Regions from separate parts of the Homo sapiens genome. Here all the other regions are linked to region 3. The links come from fine-mapping of genetic effects on plasma protein levels. A gene starts in region 3. Each other region holds a variant in brackets. All regions are shown on one strand. Distances are from middle to middle.

Region 1 (8,179 bases), 160 kb before region 3:
TTGAATAAGAATAAATAAGGCATTTGACCCAGCCATCCCATTACTGGGTATATACCCAAAGGATTATAAATCATGCTGCTATAAAGACACATGCACACGTATGTTTACTGTGGCACTATTCACAATAGCAAAGACTTGGAACCAACCCAAATGTCCAACAATGATAGACTGGATTAAGAAAATGTGGCACATATACACCATGGAATACTATGCAGCCATAAAAAATGATGAGTTCATGTCCTTTGTAGGGACATGGATGAAATTGGAAATCATCATTCTCAGTAAACTATCGCAAGGACAAAAAACCGAACACCGCATGTTCTCACTCATAGATGGGAATTGAACAATGAGAACACGTGGACACAGGAAGGGGAACATCACACTCTGGGGACTGTTGTGGGGTGGGGGGAGGGGGGAGGGATAGCATTAGGAGATATACCTAATGCTAAATGACGAGTTAATGGGTGCAGCACACCAGCATGGCACATGTATACATATGTAACAAACCTGCACATTGTGCACATGTACCCTAAAACTTAAAGTATAATAATAAAAATAAATAAATAAGGCATTTATACACAGGTGTAGGGATAGATTGTCTAACTCCCCTAGAGAAATTTTTTTAACTGCATGCATTGTCAATGGGGCAATAGCACCCCAAAGGAATGAAAATTGGTTCTTCTGGGGGCATGTGAAGAAAATCTTACTCTTTTTACGTATAAAGCACAGAGGTACAAACAATGCATCAACAGCTATGCAGTATACATGTGGTATTAAAATTTAATGGGAGGAGTCAACTAAGGGGAAAAAACCCTAAAAAGTCTAGGAGGGGGTGGATGATAATGAAAACAAGGCTGAGAAACACCGCCATAAACCCACCTTCAGACAGGAACAATGATTCAGACTGTTTTCCATAGTGCTTTCTAAACTGTTGTATATTGTTTTAAAAATAATTTATCATATGCTAATTGATAAGAGAGTCAAATATGTGCAAAGAGCTGTCTTCCCCAAAATGAATACCCTCTCTTGAAAAGTGCTAAAATTCTTAGAATAGGAATTATTTGTCTTCTTCCAGAATTCTGCTACGCTTCTGACTGAATTCCATTCCTGGAATAGCTATGGTGTTACATGAAATGCATTATCAGGCGACAGCTCAAAGGAGAAAGCAGAGAAGGCTATGCTCAGAAGGGCTGATCACTGCAGGTGCTGTGTTTGCAATCGATTTCTTAGTAAGAGTAGAAGCACTTTTGCTTCTGTTTTATTTTCTTTTCATAAGTCATATAAGAAGTAGGAGAAGGAAGAGATACGGACATTATTTTTAGCTCTCACAAACAAAAACAGATCACTAACTTTAATATGCACAGGGAATCCCTGCCCGTGAGGTTCCCCAAAAGTTGGTGCAAGTGTTTGAAATGTGCCACATGCCACTATTATTACCTCAACTGCCCCTAAGACCAGGGCCCTGGGCAAAGATTCAGCCAGGGCATGCATTCCATTTACTTTGGCAAGCGTCACTCCCAGGTTGGAAACATTCGAACAAAATGAATCTGTCTTAGATAAAGGTGATTTTACTACCTGCACGTCCTCAAGAGCAGGAGTCTGCCAGTGGCCTCCCCGGGTCATCACGAACCGGATCAAGCACCAGAGAACTGAAGACGAGAGAAGGCACACGCTACCTACAACCCAGACGTCTTTTCTTCTGAGTGTGAAGTCCATTCTTTGGGAGCAGCTGTGGATGTTGCTTGGCTTATATGTTCCTTCCCTGCCCTGATCTAGCACCAGCACTTCTCAAGCAGTGTCACCCTTTGCTCTGCCCTGAGGAGTGGGTGTCACCGAATTACAGAGGGTTCTTGCAGAGTCCTGCACTGGACGTCTCCAGTTACGTGATCAGCAAATAATCTGCCTCTTTAAAAGGAAAAATACGATGGCCTTGTGTGACAGATCTGAAACAGGTGTAGGGGCATTGGGAGACTGCTGGCAATAATTTACGACGCTGTGAATGCGTATTTGTTCCCAGTTCAAGGACAATTAGCACCACTGTATCTGGCAACTGCTGGCTGCCGAGGCTGGGCCACTGCCAGGGAGCTTTCTCCTGCCCTTACAGGGTGAGGAGCACAGGGATGGAGGTGGCGAAATGCAACTTGAAAAATCACAAAACCTCTGCCCTCAGCCTTGTTATTTTGAGATCTAAGTTATAGTCATTACGGATGGTGCTGATGGTACAATTTCACAGCAGATGGTCAGGAAATGCCACCTGGTGTTAAATCCACCAACTGCAATCAAAATAGGAAAATCCACACTTTACTCCAACCCACTGTCCCTCTGCACATCCTGTTAATAAATATTTTGCTTTGCTTGGTCTTGGGAGCATTTGTACCGGGCATTTAAACACTCCAGGGACAGTGGGGTCCCGAGTCTGCTGGGGCCATGCTTGTTTCTACCCCCACAGCTTTGGGATACCCCCTGGTTGGGATATGGAAGAACTTAAGCCAGGTTTTAAAAAGGAATTATTCCCTATGAAGGAAGGCTTTCAAACACAAATCAACAAGGGTTAGGATAAATTCAGAAATGATTTGCTTAGGGGTCTTCCAGGCGCGGATGTGGAACGGTGGGCTATGCTGACATATTTTTGTAGAGTGAGCATTCACAACCTGTGTCCTACTTTTATACTTGGGACCATGCCTTTTGGATGGAGGATGAGTAACTAGGGGTGAACAGGCAGGTGGGGAAAACCAACGGAGGAGGAGGAGAGCACAGACAACCCCGGGCCTCAGGAGCAGGGATGGGGGTGGTACACCGAGGAAAGCAGTGAGAAGCACGCAGGGCCGAATGGTTGGCTGAGAATATCACCAGGCACATTTGTGTTTCATTAAGCAAAGGGGTGTGGGGGTGTATATGAGACAGAGATCCTACTAAATATTCAAGTAAATCTGGGGGAAATACAACACGAGGGCTATTTACTATATAGATAACAGAGAACTGACAAAAGAAAAAAAACCCAGATTCAACTGTACAAAAATAATACTAATTATAGTTATGAAACCTGTTCATCATTTATAACTTAATGGTATGGACACAGTAGCTATCGAGCTCATCACTCATATGAGTCAGACCAATTTGGTCTTGTAAATTTTACTTGATTTCAACACCACACCGTGTACGTATGTTTAGATCTAGTTTATTATGGCATATGGTTATCTGCTGAAAACTTTTAAAATTTTACACAGTAGGTAGAATTTAGGTGATTTTGAACAGCCTTTGGAACATAATAGAATAAGAAAAGTCATTAGAAAACAGAATAAAAAGGAAAGTAGGAAAAATAGGCCACACACAGCAGCTCATGCCTGTAATTCCAGCACTCTGGGAGGCCAAGGTGGGAGGATCACTTCAGCACAGGAGTTCAAGACCAGTCTGAGCAACACATGGAGACCCCTGTCTCTACAAAAAAATACAGAAAGTAGCCATGGGTGGTGGTGCATGCCTAGTCCCAGCTACTTGGGAGGCTGAGGCAGGAGAATCACTTGAGCCAGGGAGGTCAAAGCTGCAGTGAGCTGAGATCACACCACTGCAATCCAGCCTGGGCGACAGAGTGAGAAGCTGTCTCAAAAAAAAAAAAAGAAACAAACAAACAAGAAAAATTAAAAGAACAAGGCCGGGCACGGTGGCTCACGCCTGTAATCTCAGCACTTTGGGAGGCCAAGGCAGGTGGATCATGAGGTCAGGAGTTTGAGACCAGCCTGACCAATGTGGTGAAACCCCGTCTCTACTAAAAATACAAAAAAAAATATAAAAAAAAATGAGTCAGGCGTGGTTGCGTGCGCCTGTAATCCCGGCTACTCAGGAGGCTAAGGCAGGAGAATTGCTTCAACCTGGGAGACGGAGGTTGCAGTGAGCTGAGATCGCACCACTGCACTCCAGCCTGGGTGACAGAGCAAGACTCCGTCTCAAAAAAAGAAAAAAAGAAAAAAAGAAAGAAAGAAAAATTAAAAGAACAAGAACTACTTAAGTAGAAGGAAGAAAAGAAGGCTATGAAGTGTTTCATAAACTCAGTAAAACATAGAGGAAAGAAGGAAGATGGCTAAAAATGAATTCAGTAGAAGAAAAATAAAAGAAATAGAAAAATCTGATTAAGAGCAGGAAAACAAAAAGAATCTGAGTTTTATCAAACTATTTTAACAAATATAAGTTGTTAAATCTATATAAAATTCTTCCCCTATTGGGACTGGAGAGTAGTTCCAGACTCTAAAGAAACTGCACTGCAAGCTTCCAGAACAAAGCTTTCATGTCACCAGAGTCTGAAATTCAGAGTACATTCTTTCCAGTGCACCACAGGGGATGTTTCTACTATGATTAGCCGTGCTAATCCCCTCAAAGAGAGAAGGGATGAGAGAGAAAGGGGAATAGGTGGAGAAAATCGACAAGCATGTTTTTATAGTCCCTGGAGAGAAAAGCGTGGCATTTTAAAGATTTACTGCTGCCCCAGCAGAAGATGAAGACGTGTTAATCTAGCTCTGTCTGCATACCTGAAGACATCTGAGCTGCTGGAATGTCCTTCTCCACCCACCCGCTGCCAAGCCTGCTGGCTGCCCTGGCACCCACCAACTAGGCAGGCAGGGGCTCCAGGCCATGGAAAGGAGAACTCTGTGCCTCTGACACATGCACCTATCCATTCTCCACGTGGACGGAGAGAGACAGGGAAATTTATTGCAGACATCTCTAGGCCCTTCTCCATTTACAAGTAAGAAATTGAATGGGACACATGGAGCTCCTAGTGATTCCTTCCCACCTTCCACAGGGTGTCAACTGCAGGACGGAAGCCAGGAGGCCCAAGTTACAGAAGGGATATGAGACTTACTATAAAGGACATTCTCTGATGGTTTCTAGGGGTTAAATAGCAGTCTCAATTTTTCCCTCAAAAACACCCTAAAAATATTTAACTTCCAAATCATCAACTTCTGGATGTAGTTGGCTGCACAAAAGTAACATCCCTACATATATTTATGTTCCAACTTAGCACTATCGCACTCTTTTTTTTTATCTTCAGAAACAGGGTCTTCCTCTGTTGCCCACGCTGGAGTGCAGTGGTGTGATCATAGCTCACTGCATCCTTGAACTCCCGGGCTCAAGCAATCCTCCTGCCTCAGCCTCCCAAGTAGCTGGGACTACAGATGTGTGCCACCATGCCCGCTATTTTATTTGTATTTTTTTATTTTTGTAGAAATAGACATCTCACCATGTCACCTGGGCTGGTCTCAAACTCCTGGCCTCCAGTGATTCTCTTGCCCCAGCCTCCCAAAGTGCTGGGATTACAGGTATGAGCCATGTGTCCTGCTTATCTCACTCTTTAGAGTGTTGCCCATTTATAAAAATTGTATCATAGATTTTGGAGAAAAACAGTACTTGAAAGATAATGAAATTCATATAAACTATTACAGTTAGTTGATGATTTCAAAGTTCTCCAAGAAGAATATTTTGTCTTCTCTGTCCTACCGAAATTAATAAACAGAAAAAATTATCCTGTTTGTACCACTGAAAACCCTAATGAGAAAGTCATGTCTCACTTAATTTTGCCTGTAGATATTTCTCCTTGGTCTATATTGAACTCATGGGGAAAGCAGAGGTCTCAAAAAAATGTTTCAATCTGATTCATTTATTCTCTCCAGCACATTTTGTCATTTCTTATTCACTTACAATAAAAAGCCTCCTAGACCTTTTATATACAATCTCTCTATTTCATTGTCTATTGCATTGTTAGAAACGCCCTTCCTACCTGAATAGTGTTTTTTAGAACAGTAGCTGGGCAAAGAAGGATGTTTTCCAAACCTGCCTGATAAGAATCACTTGCTCTGATTATCAAAAATAATGGTTCCCAGCCCTCAACCAGAATTCACTTAAATAGATCTGTGCATTCCAAAAACACTTTTGGTGCCTATTTGTTTCCGTTACTAGGAAAGCAACTGAGGAAACATGAACAAATAACACGAGGTTTCCCAACCTTAAGGAGCCTTGTCTAGAGAAAGGTGATCAACATGTTCAAAACCACCACATGTGCTGGAATGAAGGCACGGGCAAAATGCTTGATGCTCCCACCGGGCAAGGAGCCAACGGATGATGGGCAGGAACTGACTGGGCCAAGGCAGGGGAGGTAATTGCTGCTGCCGCTAACACATATTAAATGCTGACTCTAGTGACAGATACTAGGCGGAGTGCTTTACAGACGTGATCACACTTAATTTTCACAATTGCTATTATCTCACTAATTCAGATGTGGCAAGCCCTTGGTTAAATTAATATTTTTCCCAAGAACGAGCAGCTGGAATGGGGCTCAGAACTCTCGTTCTGCACAGAGGAGGGTACAAGCCCCACCGTCGTGCCATCAGCAAGTCTTTCTTGTCCCTTCTCTGGACTTCACTATCAACAGCTCTGCTGTCTAC[C/T]GCGTGAGGAACTCAAGATCTGAAGGAAAAAGGAGAAACTTCTTTCTGCAGAACAGTGTGCCTCTCAGAGCCCTTTTCTGAATTTCAAGCCCAAATCCATCATGCTAAAGGATTCTTCTTCATTTCTGCAAGCTGGCTGTATAACTCCTAAGCCACTAACTAAAAGTGAAGTCGACTGCTGGCAGAAATGCAGTTTCAAAGGCCTCCTAATTATTTACCAAACACAATTGTATAGTCGACACACACAATTCTCACTGAAGCAAAGTGGAATGATGCCTATTCATAAACTTTCCTTAATTGTACTCACAAGCGGCTCCATGACATTAGAAAAGATAAGATAGAATGAATACTTTTTAGGAGACTAAATTAGAACATGATTACCTCATTATGTCCAGATCTTGAATCCTGGTCCCCAGAATTTTTTTCCAGAAAACACTTCACTTTCTCCACCTCTTCCCTGCACTGAAAAAAGGCCATTTTCTCCAGCTGGTTGCTGTTATAACACGTGTTGAATTCTTCCAGCCTCTTCACTTTTAACATCTTAGTAGTGAGTCCGATTAAGCTACTTTCTGGAGTGTGGTTTTCGTCTCCCTCTGTCTCCGATTTATAAATCAGGACACAATTATGACTCTTCAGTGCTTCTTTCTCTTGACTGCAAAGAAAGGAAACACAAAAAGTTCTCATCACGTATTCATGCATTTGACTTCTTGAGAAAATGACCAGTGAGAATTTGGAAGTCCCTTCTGTTTAAACTGGAGAGAGGATCCAAAATCAGGAAAAGAAATACTAACATTCATATTGAGTTTCCAACATTGGAACTTTAAAAGGAAAAAAAATTTTTTCACTTTAAAACTACAAAAGCAAACAGTAAGAAGCAATGTCAAGATTCACTGGTGATGAAATATGCTCCTTATTGCACAAAACAAGCCGTAGATCAAGTGGCCAGCTTGGATGTAAATTATAAAGTATCTTTGGGTTTAATTGGAACCGCAGGTTTTGCAGCCCCGTGGGAAGGGCTTATCACAGAAGGGGTCTCTCTGCTTCCCCTGGCCTCCCTCTGCAGAGGGATCGCTCCCGAATGAGTCCTTTTCCAGAACTCTTCTCTACCTATGCCTTAAAATGTGTGGTGTTTATTTGTGAAAAGAAATTTATTTCCTTACAGTCTTCTCACGTGGACAGCACTCCCAGATACCTTTCCTTGCATCTGCATTAACAGCTATGTACCGAGAAGTTCAGAGTCTTTTCACTCTCCTTAAAATACTTTCCTCGCAAATGAAGTAATGCAGCATACATAATTCGCTTTGATACTAGAGACATATACGCATGTCTATATGTACACATCACTTGATTGCATAGAGAGGCAGGGAGAGGGAGAGACATTTGAATTTGTGCTAGTTCCGCATGGCTGACAACTGAGGCCCCCTGGTGGAGATTTTCCGAAAAGCGCCTCTTCGAGCATTTTCTCCGCTTAAAAACCGTATTGTGATTCTCATCAGAAAACTTAATATTTTGTTTTGTCAGTTCCTATAGTAAAATGATACTCTTGAGTTCCAAAGTGTTTAAAATTCACTGCTCTAACAAATTATACTTATCCACATAAAGAGCTTACATTCAAACAAATAAAAATGCAAATATTAATACTATCAACCAGAGCTCTACAGATATATTACAGATCATTCTTAGCATTCTTTCAAATTGCCCTGAAAAAATTATTAAAATAAGGAAACAAATGCATGGCTATTTCT
Region 2 (8,183 bases), 12 kb after region 3:
GAGGTTGCAGTGAGCCAAGATCGCACCACTGCACTCCAGCCTGGGCAACAGACTGAGATTCTGTCTCAAAAAAAAAATAATAAATAAAAATTATAATTACACAAGTGCAATTCTAAGTACATGTGATGGCAGCAGAATTGTGTGTATTCTCTACTCTTCTGTAGTTCCTCTTTTATTTTCCTTTTCATTGATTCTGAGTACTACTTACTAAAACGTGTTTTTTTCTCCAAAGTCTGTCAGCGATTCTAAGATATATTCACTTCAATGGGAAGTGACTGGAAGTCTTGGTGAACGTCGTTATCTTTGTTTAAACAAAGTGCCTGGTAATATTAAACAGCAATGCCAACTTCGAACATTGCCCTCTTACTTCCCCTAAAGAGGGACCTCCAAATGAATCTCTACACAAAAAATTAGGTAGGGTCCTATAACGAAATGCTTTAATTGTCTAGCGCAGGGTTTCTCAACTGACGTATTGCTGATGTGTGAAGCCAGATCATTCTTTGCACTGGGTGCTGTCCTGTGCAGTGCAGGACATTCAGCAGCATCCCTGGCCTCCACCCCCTCCATGCCAGGCACACCTACCCCTCAATGATGATAACCAAAAATGTCTCCAGACATTGCCAAATGTCCTCCAGGCCGGGGCACAGTTGCCCCCTAGGTGAGAACCATGGGTCTGGCAGATTTATTCATGCTAGGAAGCCTTGATAACAGGAGGAAAACAGAACAGAAAAAAAAAAAAAATGAGTCTTCAGGTTTAAATCTAACCTGGCCCCAGGGAACACAAGAAAGAGCAGACATAAAACTGAAAATGTTTCACCAGTAATTTTACAGAAGTTCTCCAGGTAACACTGTGATTTAAATGTCAAGCCACAGTGAAAATTAAGGTTGTTCCTCTATCACCGGCCCTTCCACCAGAAGCTGGAAGAAACAGCTGCAGGGGGATCTTCAGCTGAGGTCTGTGGATGCAGTTCGAGAGGTCAGCCAGACACCACTAATGTGACTTGCACAACATTGCACAGGTGGTAACACGCCGAGACACTTCCCCAGATCATCAAAGAAACCTGAGACTCAGAAAGGTTAAGGACTGCTTCCCTAAAGCAGTGCCCACTACCTCATTTGTACATATGGTTCCCATCATCCATTTTGGGGCAGTCAGAATATATTTGCCCTCTAAGCTCCAGAAGATATACATTCTCATTTGTGTTTTTTTCTTTTTTCACGTATTCATTATCATCCACTAAAAATAACCCATTTTATGGAAGGTTCATTTACAGCTGCAATTCTATTTTAAACACATTTAGCAAAAGTTTAAAACAAAAAATTGAAATTGTCTTTTTGTGGAATAGAATTGTAGCTTTACCTTATCAAAGATGCAATTTTGCTGTGATTTATGGATGCTTTTGTCTAGAGAAAATAACTTCATCACTTGATTTCTCCCACAAACACTACAGGAGATTCCCCATCCTGCACAGTTCACCTTTCTATCCATTTCTGCCATGTGCTATCATGAGGTCCTTCCTGCCACCTACAGGCCACCCCAGCTTTTACCGGCTGATGTGAAGGTATGAAAAGGCCCCTCTGTGGAAGCACAGGAGAAAAACATGCCATCATTCTCCCCATGTGATAGGTACATTTCCACCTGTCCCTATGAGCACCATGGCCATGGCAGAGGAGATGCTCAGGGGCAAGAAAAACATATTTCATGAGTTGCTCTCATCACCCTCCTCCTTAATAAACTGCTGGCAAAAGTGCCATCTGGGCAGGGCGCAGTGGCTCACGTCTGTAATCCCAGCACTTTGGGAGGCTGAGGCGGGTGGATCACTTGAGGTCAGGAGTTCGAGACCAGCCTGGCCAACATGGTGAAATCCTGTCTCTACTAAAAATACAAAAAATTAGCCAGGCGTGGTGGCACACACCTGTAATCCCAGCTACTCAGGACGCTAAGGCAGGAGAATCACTTGAATCCAGGAGGTGCAGGTTGCAGTGAGCCGAGATTGCACCACTGCACTCCAGCCTGGGTGAAAGAGTGAGACTGTCTCCAAAAAAAAAAAAAAAAAAAAAAAAAAAGTGCCATCTGCACCTGAATTCATCCACCAGGGAAGGTCTGGATCAGAAGCACATCAACCAAGCCCTCTATGGCCACCTAGTCGTCAGTCCCCAGTCAGTGAACACTGGGGTGTAGCCAGCAGAATAATGCCCCTTGCCAAAGATGTCTTACCTCCTAATCCCCAAAACCAGTGACTGTCTTACATGGCAAAAGAGATTTTGCCGATGTGGTCCCTCTAGTTAAGAATCTTGAGATGGGAGACGTGCTGGTTATCTGGTATTATGTTCATTTTAAATGTTATTGTAATCAGGTTCTTCTGGCCTGTGTGCTCAGATCAAAGCCAGGTTTCCCAATGACCCGGTAGCCAATTTGCAATGCTTAAATATGGTTTATTGCCAGAGACTCACACATACCCAATCAATCGAGCAAACATTCACAATACAATTATTTTTTTCATTGTTTCTTTTCCTGTGAGTGATGGGAATGACATGATACAATTACTAAAGGCAGTAATGAGCGGAATGGCAAACCCAGGCTGTGGCTGAGGAGGCCAGCACAGCAGACACTCCTCTCACACAGAGCCTCTGGGCAGCCCGTCTCACCGGGAGGAGGCACTTTTTTTTTTCTATTATAAGTTTTAGGGTACATGTGCACAACATGCAGGTTAGTTACATATGTATACATGTGCCATGTTGGTGTGCTGCACCCAGTAACTCGTCATTTAACATTAAGTATATCTCCTAATGCTATCCCTCCCCCCTCCCCCCACCCCACAACAGTCCCCAGAGTGTGATGTCTCCTACAGGCAGGAATTCTCAAGGTGCCTCTGACAGTGTCAGTTCCTTGCTGGTTTTATGGTTTTCCCCAGGTGTGTCCGTCATCATCATCTCAGCCACCTTTTGGCTCCATTTTCTATCGGTTCCTTTTGGGTCTCAAGTGGTACATGCCACAGCAAATGTAATCTCATCTCTTATACATATGTTTATCGCCTTAAAGAAAAACAACTTTACTATGAGCTCAGGCTCAGTCTAGTACACATACGCTTACCACTTTAAGGAGTAAACAACTTCACTGTGGGCTTCATGCCACTTGAAAACCAAAAAGTATCTGAGGCAAGTCTGGATCAATTTAGAGGTTTATTTTGCCAAGGTTAAGGGCATGCCGATGACACGGCCTCAGGAGGTCCTGAGAACAGGTGCCCAAGGTCAGGACACAGCTTGGTTTTATACATTTTAGGGAGACATGAGACATCAATCAATACGTGTAAGATGTACTTTGGTTTGGAAAGGCAGGACAACTGGAAGCAGGGGCTTCCAGGTCATAGGCAAACCCAGAGGTTTTCTGAATCAATAGAAAGGAATGTCTGGATGATGATAAGGGGTTGTGGACACCAAGCTTTTATCATGCAGGTGAAGCCTCCAGGTAGCAGGTGTGAGACATAATAAACCGTAAATGTTTCTTATCAGACTTAAAGAGTCTGCTCTATCAGTAATTCCAAAACGGAAGACTGCATAATGAGGCATGTCCGGCTCCCCTTCCCATCATGGCCTGAACTAGTTTGCAAGTTAGCTTTGGGCCTTTACCGAGAGGACGGGTCCATATAGAGGACTGAGGGCTTAGAATTTTATTTTTGGTTTACACACATAACACAAGCCACTCCATTTTTAGACATTAGGATCACAAATCATTCTTATAGATCATCTGGGTGGGCTCAGTGTGATCACAGGTCCTCATGAGAGAGGGAGGAGGGCCACAGCCAGAGGAGACGTGAGGACAGAGGCAGAGGTCAGGGTGATGCGGAGCCACAAGCCATGGAACACAGGCGGCCTCTAGGAGCTGGAAAAGGCCAGGAAGCAGATTCTCCCCGGAGCCTTGGGAGGAATCAACCCAGCTGACCCGTTTTGGAGTTCTGACTTCAGAGCTGTACGGTGTAAAGCTCGGTTGTTTTCAGCCATTTGAGGTTTGAGGTAATTTGTGATGGCAGCAATAGGAAACGAATACACTGGCTTAGTCACAGAGTAGCCAATATGGGGCCTCAGCAACAGGACTGCTGCAGGGCTCACAGGCACCCTCAGAGACCAGCTGGCTGTACCCGCCCCTAGTGCAAACAGGCAC[C/A]GCCCTAAGTTCTTTATGTGCCTCTCAGCTAACCCTCACTATCACACACCGAGGCCCTGCAGTAAGTACCCACCAAGATGAGGAGACTGAGTTTGTTCCCGATCTCCTAGGTGGTTGGTGTCAATGAAGTCAGGGTTGGAAACTGTGATTTGATTCCACAGCCTGCATCCTTGATCATTCCATAAAATCCCGATTGCTGCTAGCTCCTTCCCAATTTGGTGTCACTAATATAATTTGTAACCACTGTTCTGTGAATAAAGAATGTAATTCTCTGTAAATAAAAACTACATTTTTTTTTTTTTTTTTTGAGACAGCCTCACTCTGTCACCCAGGCTGGAGTGCAGTGGCGCAATCTCAGCTCACTGCAACCTCTGCCTCCCGGGCTCAAGTGATTCTCCTGCCTCAGCCTCCCAAGTAGCTGTGATTACAGGCATGCACCACCAGGCCCGGCTAATTTTTGTATCTTTAGTAGAGATGGGGTTTCAACATCTTGTTCGGGCTGGTTTTGGACTCCTGACCTCAGGTGATCCACCTGCCTCGGCCTCCCAAAGTGCTGGGATTACAGGTGTGAGCCACCGTGCCGGGCCAAAGCTACATTTCTAAAAAATAAAACTAAAAACTACATTTCTGTCACCATGTCATGTGAAACAGCTGGACAGATCTCACCAAATCTGAAGGGTCCATTTGAGATGTAAAATAAGGGCTATGTTGAAGAGACAGTTACTTTAAATCTGGGAGAGTCCACAGAGAGGTACCACTTCCCCCGGAGTTGCTGAAACTAGGCTAGGGAGCTGTCCAGGGCAGCCTTGGCATAGACATCAAATATGAAGCCCAAATCCCACGTGGAAACTTGAGTTGGAGGTGTTGATTTGGGGCCAGTCGACACATCACTTGGGGCAGGTCCAGGAGGTATGCTTCCATGTGAGAGTGGCTGGATCACCCATGTGCACCCTGGAAGGTAGAAGGAAAAGATGTGCCTGAGAGAAACTTTATTACTAAATCAAAAGTTACTACAGGTTACTATCAGTTATTATAATTTTAGCAAATTTTTATAAGTCCAACATTAATTATTTCTTTTTTTCCTAGACAAAGGCTTGCTCTGTCACCTAGACTGGACTGCAGTGGCACGATCTCGGCTCACTGCAACCTCTGCCTTCCAAGTTCAAGCAATTCTCCTGCCTCAGCCTCCCGAGTAGCTGGGACCACAGACCTGCACCACCACACCCAGCTAATTTTTGTATTTTTGGTAGAGGTGGGGTTTCGCCATGATGCCCAGGCTGGTCTCGAACTCCTGACCTCAAGTGATCCACCTGCCTTGACCTCCCAAAGTGCTAGGATTACAGGCGTGAGCCACCACACCTGGCCTAATTATATCTTTCTATTAAGCCTTACCTAATAATAGTAGAGTAGGATTCTCTTTGGCTGGGTCACTATTCAATAAAATATTAAAGTTCATCCATGTGCCTCTGTTTCCCAAAGTCTCTTTGCTGTTACTATTGAGGACATTTTAGGAAATGAAGAGACAAATCATCCACAATCCAATAACCCTGCAAGCTATTTTTCTATATTATGTTATCCTCTCTTTTATCATATGCATGTATATTTTGCTCACATTTTTTAAAGCCACATAAGAAATGTATGTTTCCATTTGGAAAATTAGAAAATATGCAAAGCAAGAATTACAGAAAACTCTATGCAGAGATAAGGATCATCATGCATGTGCTGACTTTTATAAACAGGGTATCATCCCCTGATCTTGCTTCTTCCACATCACCAGTGGACTGCAGTGCCTCACCCTGCAGTTGTGAGGCTATACTCCCTTAAGCCTTAGCAGGGGTCTTCTGAGTCTCTCAGGGGCACGATGGGAAGGAAAAGGAGCTGAGTGGATGAGGCGGGAGATGGGAGACAATTATTTCAAAGAGTGCACCTCCACTGTCAGATGTTTTGTTTTAGCTTTCTGCTAAAATATTTTTTAAAAGGGAGTGCCTCACACTTAAAAAAGGCGTGAAGGCCATTTTTACATACAGAACAACAAACAGGCCAATCAGTGCAAATTCTTTTACATTTCAATGAGTGAAAATGTCAGCCAAGAAAATGCCATCTAGTGATATTTGCACAACAGTACCCTACACATAATAGGTCATGATTCTAGAACAAAATGTGAAAGTTCATCCATTGTCCTCAAATAATCAAGCCTCTGGGGAGCCTTCCAGGGCAGCAGCTGCTAGAAGGTTGGTGTCTGTAGTGTCTCCAGCACAGCAGGGTCTGGTCTGTGTCCAGGCTGCTTCTGCCATGCTCAATCTCACCTTACTCTTGAAGGAAATAAAAGGCTAGGAAGCCAGAAGAAATACTCACACTGAGGGCACTGGCCCACCAGGGATGGCATTAGCAAAAGAGACTCAATGAGGATGAGAAAACAGAGATGACAGAGACCCAAATAACATTTGAATTGGACTCTACCTGCAAGTGGAGCTTTACCATCCAGGTGAGGCAGTCATAAACCTAGGCTGGAGTGTGTGTGTGTGTATAATCATCCTGTCGGAACAGGCAAAGGAATGAACTGGAGTACCCATCAATGTTGACTCTCCATTAAACTGCTCTTAATTCCTTACAATCACGTACTTCTGGCCTCTCCTGTCTTCCCTCTTCCTCCCTCTCACTTCCTCACCTCTTTCCTTTCCAGCCTGTAGGTACTGGTCATTATCTACCCCATAGCAATGACACACACACATGCACACACTCACACACAAGTGTGCCTTGGGGGTGTGTCCCAGCTCACACTGATGGTTAGGCTGACGCTGGAAGGAGACAACAGGGCGACTCTCTTCTCCGCCCCCTCAGGTTCTTCTTGGTACTCCACTCCCATTTGCACATTAAAGATTGTAAGAGAGTTGGAACTTTGGACATGGATGGACCTCTCCCAGTAAATCTAGAAGGCATTCATTCCAACAGCATACAAAACAATACTGGTGGGTGCCCACGCCACAACACTATGGCACCATAAATATACTGCTATAGGAAAAGTTTGATTTCCAGCCATTGAACTTGACATTGAAATTCCAGCCTGGGTGCAGTAGGGTGAGCCTGTAGTCCCAGCTACTCTGGAGACTGAGGCAGGAAGAGCACTTGAGTCCAGGAGTTCAAATCCAGTCTGAGCAGTATAATGAGACCCCCTTCTCTAAAAAACAAATAAATACATACATTGGCATCAAACTAGTTTCCTTTTTACACATAAAAAAGCAAGGTGGCTGCACTCCTCTCTCCCCACACACGCTCCTGCTGATGAGTTTATTCCAAGAGCACCGATGCAGACCTTCCCTTCCATTTTTGTGGGGAAAGAAAATGATCTGGAACTCACGCCAGAGGGGAGGGCACATACAGGAATTTGCTGTTGCGGGTCAGCCACATGTTCACCCATAGCAGGAAGAGCCAGCTTTGGGGGAGCCAGGGTCTGCTGTTTCCTGTCAGAGGGGCAGTGGCGAGACCCTCGGGAAGCCCCAAACTTCCCAGGAACCCTCTTGGCAGGGCAGCCGGTTTCAGGCATCTGAACTCTATCTGCCGTCTGGAGAGTCATGAGTGCTTTTAAACAAATGTAGGATGCAATTACTTTGGAGTTTTAGGGAAACCATATGGATGGCCGTCTGATGTGGAAAAGCTAGGGCGCCTGTCGGCAGTCCACGGCCATAGAACTGCAGCTGCCAGGATGCAGCTGGAGAATTAGGACATGAGCTGCTGCCATGACTAGCACAGGTCAGGGGGCGGGCAGAGGTGAGAACTGCTCTGAGAGGCTCCAGCAACATTTATACCCAAGGAAGCCCAGTGGGAGTGGGGGTGTTCCACTGGAGGCACGTGGGACATCCCAACCGCCCCTGTAAGCAAAGACAGCCCAGGATATTCAAATATAAATATAGGTAGTGTCACAGGAGTTGAAACCAGAGCAACTCCATCTTGAACAGGGGATGGGTAAAATGAGGCTGGGACCTACAGGGCTGCATTCCCAGGAATTTAGGCCTTCTCAGAA
Region 3 (8,156 bases):
CAGTAAGCTGAGATCGCACCACTGCACTCCAGCCTGGGCGACAGAGCAAGACTCTGTCTCGAAAAAAAAAAAAAGAAATAGGACTGGAGGAAGATGCTTTACATTATCAAGGGTGGTTGTCTCTGTTTGATGGATTCATAGGGATTTTTTCCTCCCTTCTACTTTTATTTTTTAAAAATTTTTATAGTGGACTTTTACCAGTTATATAATGAAGGAAAAATAAATAATTCTTTAAAATATTTCTGCTGCCATTAACGCTTCCCTGCATGTTACAGGTAGCAACGTGTACTCAGTATGTTTGGTGTCTCACAAGCATCCAGTTGAACACTGGAGCCATGGAGAGAGCTCAGTCTCACACCTAAGAAGGTACCCAGACAATTTTGGTGCTCTCAAAAAAGCTTTCTATAAGGGTTTATCAGTGAGCCTAAAACATAGAAAAAGATCATACAGATTTCAGCATAAGGAACTTCAGAATCAAAATGGAGTCACTAATATTAAAAAAACAAAACCAAAAACCTTTGACAAACAGACAGGGAAGGCCATGAAGAGAGGGTTCTCACGCTTGAATGCCTGATAACACAACTATCACAAAGGACTCTAAAAACCTACGCTCTTGCACAAAGGCCATCACAGCCTTACACAACAAAATACTTGTGCAAGGACATCTACCCAGGAACTCCCCATCCAACCTCACACTGACATCACCTTCGTTATTGATCTTTTTGCCAAAAATAATTATTTCAAAGGAATTATGTAATCCTCTTTACTTTTTCCTTTAAAAATCTTAGTGTTATTTCACCTCCCTGAATGTGCACATAGCTTGCCATGGCATGCGTATTTTCATTGCAATGCCCTATTTCCAAATATATATATCTTTTAGAGAGCCTCTCTGTGCTTATTATTAAGGCTGGTAGCCTTTACACATAAACCCTCCCTTCTTCACACAATGAGCTGGGAAATTATTAAAATGAGTAATTCACTATTGAAAAGCGTCATCAAAGAAAAAGACAGTCATATTGAACAAAGGACAACTCCCATGATGAAGGCGTGTCCAGCGGCCTGCACTCAGGGATGGCGCTTTTCGGTTTCATCTCACGTGTATGTCTCCTCTCCTTTCCACAAAGGTCTGGGGACAAGCACTGATCTTGAATCATTTCCACAGGTTCTCTGAATGTTGGTGAGACTGAGCTGAGCAGTACCTGCACAGTGTGCAGCTGTAATGAAGCACTTGCCCTGGAATCCTTCTTGCAAATTTCTGTTGATGCCCTCCCTGAGCTGTTGGTACAGAAACAACTTGAAACAGGTATTAACCTTCCTTACCAATGAAAGTTTAGTTACAAAGTCTCTTGCTCCAAAAAAGAGGTAGTTCTTTGCAACTTATGTTTCAAATAATTTCAGTGTCATTTTCTAAAGAAAGATTCTGCGCTAGGACAAGACAGCTTGGATGGTCTTTTCCAAGGGATTAACCGAGGAAAGTTTCCCCCAAATAAATCTCGGTGGAGCAGAGTTCCTGCCTCCCTGCCCTGCCCCACTTCTTCCCCAGTGGACCCCGCCTCCCTGAAACGGCCAGTGCACACTCGGGCCCCAGTCCTGCCCTCCTTTCTCAGTGGCTCTGGAGTGTGAGTGTGAAGCTGGTGACAGAACACGCAGCCCAGGCCAGTCCCTGCTCCTGGCGGACGGGCAAGCTTACCTGGGCCATCTGGGTTGCGGTGTTTCCCTTTGCCCCTAGGAGAACCATGGCCAGGGCAGAGGAGATGCTCACAGGAGAACAGAACACGTTGTGCGAAGGGTTATCTTGACACAGTATCTTTAAAAGGCGTATGGCAAAAGTACCACTTGCATTAGAAAGAGTTTCCATGATGCAGGGCCTGGAAGGGAAGAATAAAGAGAAATGCAGTTTCCACACTCCCTGAATGTTACTGACCTACTTACTACAGGGCAATTTTGGAATCGTACTTTTTGTTTTCTTCTTAAAGTTCGTAAGTATTTTAAATTGGAGAAAAATTTATTTTCTGTTAGTCTCCGGCCAAAAATTAAGTGCAAATGTTAAGGTAATTAGCTAAGTGTGGTGATGGCAGCAGCTCAAACCAGCAATAGCAACAGAACTGGCTCGCCTGCAGAGCTCGCTCTCTCACACACACACACACACACACACACAGAGCTGGAAGCAGTGAACTCCAATTCTTTCCGTAAGGACCAGATCGTCCCATCTGAGGAGGAGAATGGGGTCAGGGAGGAGGAGGAAAATGCTGTTCTTATTCTTGCATGCATTTACAAAGAGTCCTTGTGAGATTTTCAACTGGGCACCAGCCTGTGGCCTCCCTGACATTCAGCTGATACACAAAAGACACTGAGATGCTGAATCTGACCCAGAGACAGACAGCTGTGAGGCAAGGAGCTGTCATCCATAGAGGCAAGTGAGTGCGTCCTGGACAGCCGGGGTGGAGCCAGGCTGCTCCCAGTCAGCCAGCCTGCCCCAGGCCCACGCGGCCTGACATCCCAGTAACTCCATTCAGAGCTCCTGCCCATCACCAGCTTCTGCACATCATGTGACCCTTGAACACAGAGTGGGACTTGGACAATTGTGTGGTTTTGCTTCGTTTTGTTTTGTTTTTAATGTGCTTCCTAACTCAGAAACATCTATTTGGGAGCTTTACTCATTACTCCCAGCAAAAGCCATGAGTGTAGATTGTGCGTGAGAGGAAGGATCTGATCCCTGCAGAACGCCAGAATGGAAAGGCAAGAAACAGCCCAAGGTGAGGAGTAAAACAGGCGAGAACAAGGAGGTGGTGCCTGTGAAGCCACTGGAGACCAAAGTGTGAATGTGAGGGGGTGGGTCTCTTGGCCACAGGCCTGAAACCAAATGAACCCCCACCCCCAGGCTGCAGTTCCCAGTGCACTTGGAAATGAGACCCTGACTCCTCCAGGTGAGCCTGGGAGACCTCCCTGACTCCTTTCCATCTCCCCCTCCTCCCCCACACCCATCCCCAAGGCCTGCCCTCTACGCCCACATTTCTTCCCACTTCGGATTCTGTGCCTGGTCTAATGCCCAGGCCCCCTCCCGAGCCTCTGGTCTCCCTAGAGCCACTCCCCACTGTCGGGACACCTCATCTGTGCTCCCCAAAACGCCACGCAAAGCGCTGGAGAGCCTTGGACAATGAACACAACCCACTCCCCCAGCCACCCCCACGCCACAGCCACACGGCACCTCAGAAAGCGGTGTCTTAATCCTCTTGTCCTTCCTCCTAAATCTCCCAGGGGCCCTTAGGCCCCTCAAAGGTGGCCGCTCAAAGCCACCTTGTTAAAACGGTGTCTTACCCACCTGCCCCCTCCCTTGATCCAGACTCACTGAGGTCACAGCCTCCACCTCTGGCCATCCTGAACCCCTCCCAAAGTCAACTCTTCACAAACACTGTTGGTCCCCCTTAGAAGGCCCCATGTCCATCACGGCATTAATTCCACTCACCCTCAAACACCGCGGCCCGGAGGCTCTGATTCCCACCCTGGAGGAGGTTCTCTTGACCCCGCCGGCGCGACCCTCCCCAGCACGACCCTTCCTCCCGAAGGTGATTCCTCATCTTGCTGGTGGTCCCCACAGACCGCAGGCTCTGCAGGCGAGCGCTGAGCCTGGCTCTGCAGATTCTCAGGACCCCATTCGTTTAGCTGAATTATTGAAAGAATTAAGATGGATAAGAGTGCTCAGATTTGAAACTCCGAGACTGGTGGCTTTATTTTTTTGTTGTTGTTGGTGGTGGTTTTTTTGTGTTTTTCTTTTTTTTGTTTTGAGACGAAGTCTCACTCTGTCTGCCAGGCTGGAGTGCAGTGGCGCAATCCCAGCTCACTGCAACCTCTGCCTCCCGAGTTGAAGTGATTTTCCTGCCTCAGCACATAGCTGACATTATTACAGGCGTGGGCCACCATGCCCGGCTAATTTCTGTATTTTTAGTAGAGACCGGTTTTCACCACGTTTGCCAGACTGGTCTCGAACTCCTGATCTCCAAGGATCCGACCGCCTTGGCCTCCCAAAGTGCTGGGATTACAGGCGTGAGCCACTGCGCCCGGCCGAGACTGGTGACTGTAAAGGACAGTGAAGAAGCAGGACAGACGTCATCCTGCGGATCCCAGAGCAGAGAAGAGCAGTGAGAACACAGGGCCGGCAGGTGGGGAGGAGGCTGCAGGGGAGGGCTTCGGCCAGGGAAGGGCAGCGAGGAGACATCCGGGAGGGAGGCGTCCGCGGTGGCTGTGGGCCGCCAAGGCGGAGACCGGCTGCCGCTCCCAGGCACCCCCCAGAGACCGTTGCTGACCCCACCGAGAAGGCACCGCCTCCCCGGGGCTCTTGGCTGAGCGACCTCTCCTGTCCTCCGGTCCCATCACTCGGTGGCAGCCGGTGGACCTGAAGCTCGCCACTCCCGTCCCCTACCCCAGCCGTGCGCGGGGACGCCCTCACCTGCCACCTAGTCCAGCGCTGCCGCCGTCTCCGTGCCGCGCTCCGAGCCTGGACGCCGACCCCCGAGGCGCAGGACCCGGCCCTGCTGCTGCGCTCGCCGCGGACTCCCGCTAGGGCCTCTGCAGGCACCGCTTTTATACCGCAGGGTCGGGCGCCTCCCACGCTTTCTGCGTTTAGGCGGAGCCTGGCGGGACCAGCGGGGGCGCCGCGCGTGGTGGCCGAGGTCAGAGCTGGGAGCAGGGTCAGGTCAGGGTCCCCCCAGTCCGCCCCGCCCGGGGCGATGTCCGCCAATGCTCCCGCCAGCCTGAGGCCGGCCAGGTTCCCAAGGCGCGCGCTCGGCCTCACCCACCCCCGGCGCCAGGGCCTCTTCAGGACCGGGTTCAGAACCTGACAGCCCAGAGAAGTAGGTTGGGAGCCTGCGGCGTCCAGGGCCTCCGCGCGAAGAAACAAGGCGTCTGCGGGAAAGGAGACGGAGCCTGGAACCCTGGGCTTTTGTACTTAAGGAAGCGAAGGTCGGGTGACAGCCAAGCTCCGTGTTCCAGTGGGAAGGTCCCATGGGTCTGTGTTCCACGCCTCTTGTCATGAATATGGGGGATTCACTTAGAACCAAAGCATTTGTTCCAGGTCCCACCACTAACTAGTACTAGTCCTGGGCCCAGAACCAGGCGTCCTCACTCCTAGTACCCAAGCCCTTCTCTAGCCACAGGTGTTTGGGCTGCGGTGTGGTGTAAGCAGCCCCATTTTCCCGCAAAGTGATGGGAAGAGACACTGAGTCACACGGGCTCAGGACACTCCTTGTGTCCTCTATCAGGGGGTCCAGAGGCAGGGACTCGGGGGAGTTGATGCAGCAGTTCGTGATGTCATCAGATATCCCCCCACCCCCTTCCATCTCAGGCTGGACTCAATTGGAAGCATTTCATGTTGGCACGGTGACGTCCAGAGGAAGGGAACAGACAAATGGCTCTCTCTGGAGCACGGAGCGTCGCCCAGAAGCCGTGCCCTCCTGTTTCAAATTGACCAGAATTAGAGCTTTCTCCTGAGGGCCTGAATTAGGGAGAAGCAAGGCAGGTGCCTAAGGCACAAAATTTCAGGAGGGCCACACGCATAGGTGCCAACCCTGCATTTGCGCGGCCCTGAGAATCAGAGCCTCCTTCAATTTGACACCCTAGGTGCCTAGCTTGTTTTTAAAAATAAAACCTTTATTAAAAGACAATTCACGGACCATAATATGCATCCTTTTAAAGCATACAATTCAATAGTTCTTGGTATATTGACAAAGCTGTCCAACTCTCACCACTATCTAACTCCAGAAGGTTTTCATCACCCTAAAAGGAACTGTGATACCCATTAGCAATTATTCTCCATTTCCTCCTTCCCACAACCCCTGGCTTCTGGGAGAGGCTCCGACCTCCAGATTTCTTTTCTGGCCCTGCGGATTGACCGACTGTGAAGATTTCATGCAAATTGAATCATACAATATGTGGTCTTTCCTGACTGCCTTCTTTCACTTAGCATAATGTTTTCAAGGGTCATTCTTGATGGTTCCAGGTAGCATTTGTTAGTACTTTATTTCTTTTTATAACTGAATAATACTTATAAAAATATTATAAAATCAAAAGGGAAATTAGAATGTATTTTGAAATTAATAAAAAATGAAAATAAAAACATCAAAATTTGTAGGATGTTATTAAGTCAGCTTTGGGGAAATTTTGCAGCATGAAATGCCTATATTAGGAGAGGAGAAAGGCTTCAAATCAATGACCTCAGTTTCTACCTTCAAAAACTAGAAAAAGTATAAATACATTGAACACATAATCAGTAGAAAAGAAGAAATAATAAAGATTAGAGAATAAATCAATGATATAGAAAACTTTATAATGATAGAGACAATTGATTAAACAAAAAGCTGTTATTTATTTATCCACTTATTTATTTTTTTGAGGTGGAGTCTTGCTCTATCGCCTAGGCTGGAGAACAATGGCGTGATCTTGGCTCACTGCAACCTCCACCTCCCAATTCCAGCGATTCTCCTGCCTCAGCCTCCCAAGTAGCTGGGACTATAGGCATGCATCACCATACCCAGCTAATTTTTGTATTTTTAGTAGAGATGGGGTTTCACCATGTTGGCCAGGCTGGTCACGAACTCCTGACATCAGGTGATCCTCCCGCCTCAGCCTCCCAAAGTGCTGGGATTACAGGCGTGAACCACTGTGCCTGGCCATACCCATGAATTTTAAGGCAACAAATGGGGGCATCGTTGTCAGTGCCATTGCAAGAAAGTGTCTGAGTAAACGTGGACCATGATGGCATAGTGCAAACATGTTAGCTGCCTCTGTGCTCCGAGGCCTAGAGGAAACGTCCTTTCAATCCAAATCATGTGACCAGCGATGGAAAATGGGTTTAGGAAAGGATAAAAACACAGAACTATGAAAACAAGGTTATTTTAGCTTTTCCTTTCCTTTCTCCTCTTTCCCCCACTAAAAATTGTATGGGGGGGTGGGGCATGAAATCTGTTCAGAAATAGCTAAGAATCAAGAGATTTTGCAATTACCTATATTTTTCATTTAAAATCTCTTCTACTTTATTACTTTAAGAAAGTCACAACATATCACAAAAATATTTCTTTATCTGATTGCTCATCATGGTTTTCCCAGATAGAAAATACACAGGGCCCCAGAGGAAGCATTTTTCCAGGATTTTCCAACACTGTCCGGAGGAAGGGAGTCTTTGATCCTCACACCAGGTCCAAGGATTTTTCAAAAATCACTACTTCATGATCAGACAAGCCCAAGAGAAATGACAGAATCATGTTGCTGGCCTGAAAACCTGGCAAACGTGTAAGCAGACCTCCGTCACTGAGGACCCACCCAGCAGTAACTTCCTTCCTAGCTCCAAGTTCACTGCAAATAAAGTCCCTCACCACCAATGACCCAGCCGTTGTGCGTCTCTAGACTCTTCTGCATCTTTAGCAAAGGCCACATTTTCCAGCTCTACCTGTGGGCATTTGACACACTTCCTTAAAGTCCTGCAAAGAGCAAAATATGGAGCGTGGCCCTATTCATTCTGCAAAGGTTTCCACAACTTTGAAAACATTTCCCTGCCCCCAACATGTTCCTATCATGCTTGTGACACAGTCAGGTTCCATTCTAAGACTCATGCATTCAGTTAACAAAAAATAATTCGCTTCCTGCCATGGGCTTGGCTTGGCACTTGCTGGGAACTTGGTACCAAGTTGAAGACACAATATCTGGCCCAAGAGGGCAGCAGTCTGAGGGAGAGACGGCGAGCACACTGAGGTACTTCCAAGGTGCCCTGAACACCCCTAGAATGGCCCAGCCCAACACTTAAGCTCCACAGGGACTTTCCACTAAATCTTCTGTCTCCCACACCGGACTGCGAGCCTCAGGACAGCCTAACCCTCCTTTACTAATTTTTATATTAGCACACTGTACATTTGGCCACCGGTACCTCAGGTTCCACATCCACAGATTCAACCAACTGCAGATGGAAAAATTTTTTAAAAAATCAAAAAATAATACAAAATTTAAAACAATACAGTATAACGGCTATTTGTACAGCATTTACATTGTATTAGGTATTATACATAATCTAGAGATGATTTCAAGCGTATGGGAGGATGTTACACAGGTTACATTTGCATAGGTTATATGCAAACACTACGCCATGTTATATTAGGGACTTGAGGATC

Alleles and levels. Alleles are on the strand shown, and positions count from the first base shown. The strength of an association depends on the size of the effect and on how common the allele is. Not every link is listed here.
For the plasma level of the protein whose gene starts at base 4,556 in region 3, C is the low allele of the variant in region 1 and T is the other (weak association).

What was found. PIP is the chance, under the fine-mapping model, that this variant and not a neighbour inherited with it causes the effect. Protein levels are from antibody-based Olink assays in UK Biobank. Linkage for the fine-mapping came from a reference panel and not from the study's own genotypes, which makes the PIPs less certain.
Region 1: its variant is fine-mapped to the plasma level of the SERPINB9 protein (UK Biobank, PIP above 0.99).
Region 2: its variant is fine-mapped to the plasma level of the SERPINB9 protein (UK Biobank, PIP 0.98).

The regions. Positions count from the first base shown.
Region 1 is chr6:2,742,321-2,750,499 of GRCh38, forward strand. MYLK4 (myosin light chain kinase family member 4) reads right to left here. Exons shown (of 13, transcript NM_001012418.5): 2 at 6,816-7,086. The coding sequence starts at 6,974. Among named protein-coding and RNA genes, the nearest start is that of MYLK4, 4.5 kb to the right of the region's middle. The variant C/T (reference allele first, on the strand shown) is at 6,435.
Region 2 is chr6:2,910,359-2,918,541 of GRCh38, forward strand. No RefSeq gene overlaps it. Among named protein-coding and RNA genes, the nearest start is that of SERPINB9, 11 kb to the left of the region's middle. RefSeq lists an enhancer at 6,024-6,566. The variant C/A (reference allele first, on the strand shown) is at 4,163.
Region 3 is chr6:2,898,754-2,906,909 of GRCh38, forward strand. SERPINB9 (serpin family B member 9) reads right to left here and starts at 4,556. Exons shown (of 7, transcript NM_004155.6): 1 at 4,448-4,556; 2 at 1,691-1,868. The coding sequence starts at 1,858. It overlaps SERPINB9-AS1 (SERPINB9 antisense RNA 1), which reads left to right. Exons shown (of 5, transcript NR_110841.1): 3 at 276-366; 4 at 1,163-1,303; 5 at 1,730-1,923. RefSeq lists an enhancer at 4,020-4,521 and silencers at 4,232-4,281, 4,522-4,601, 4,702-4,751.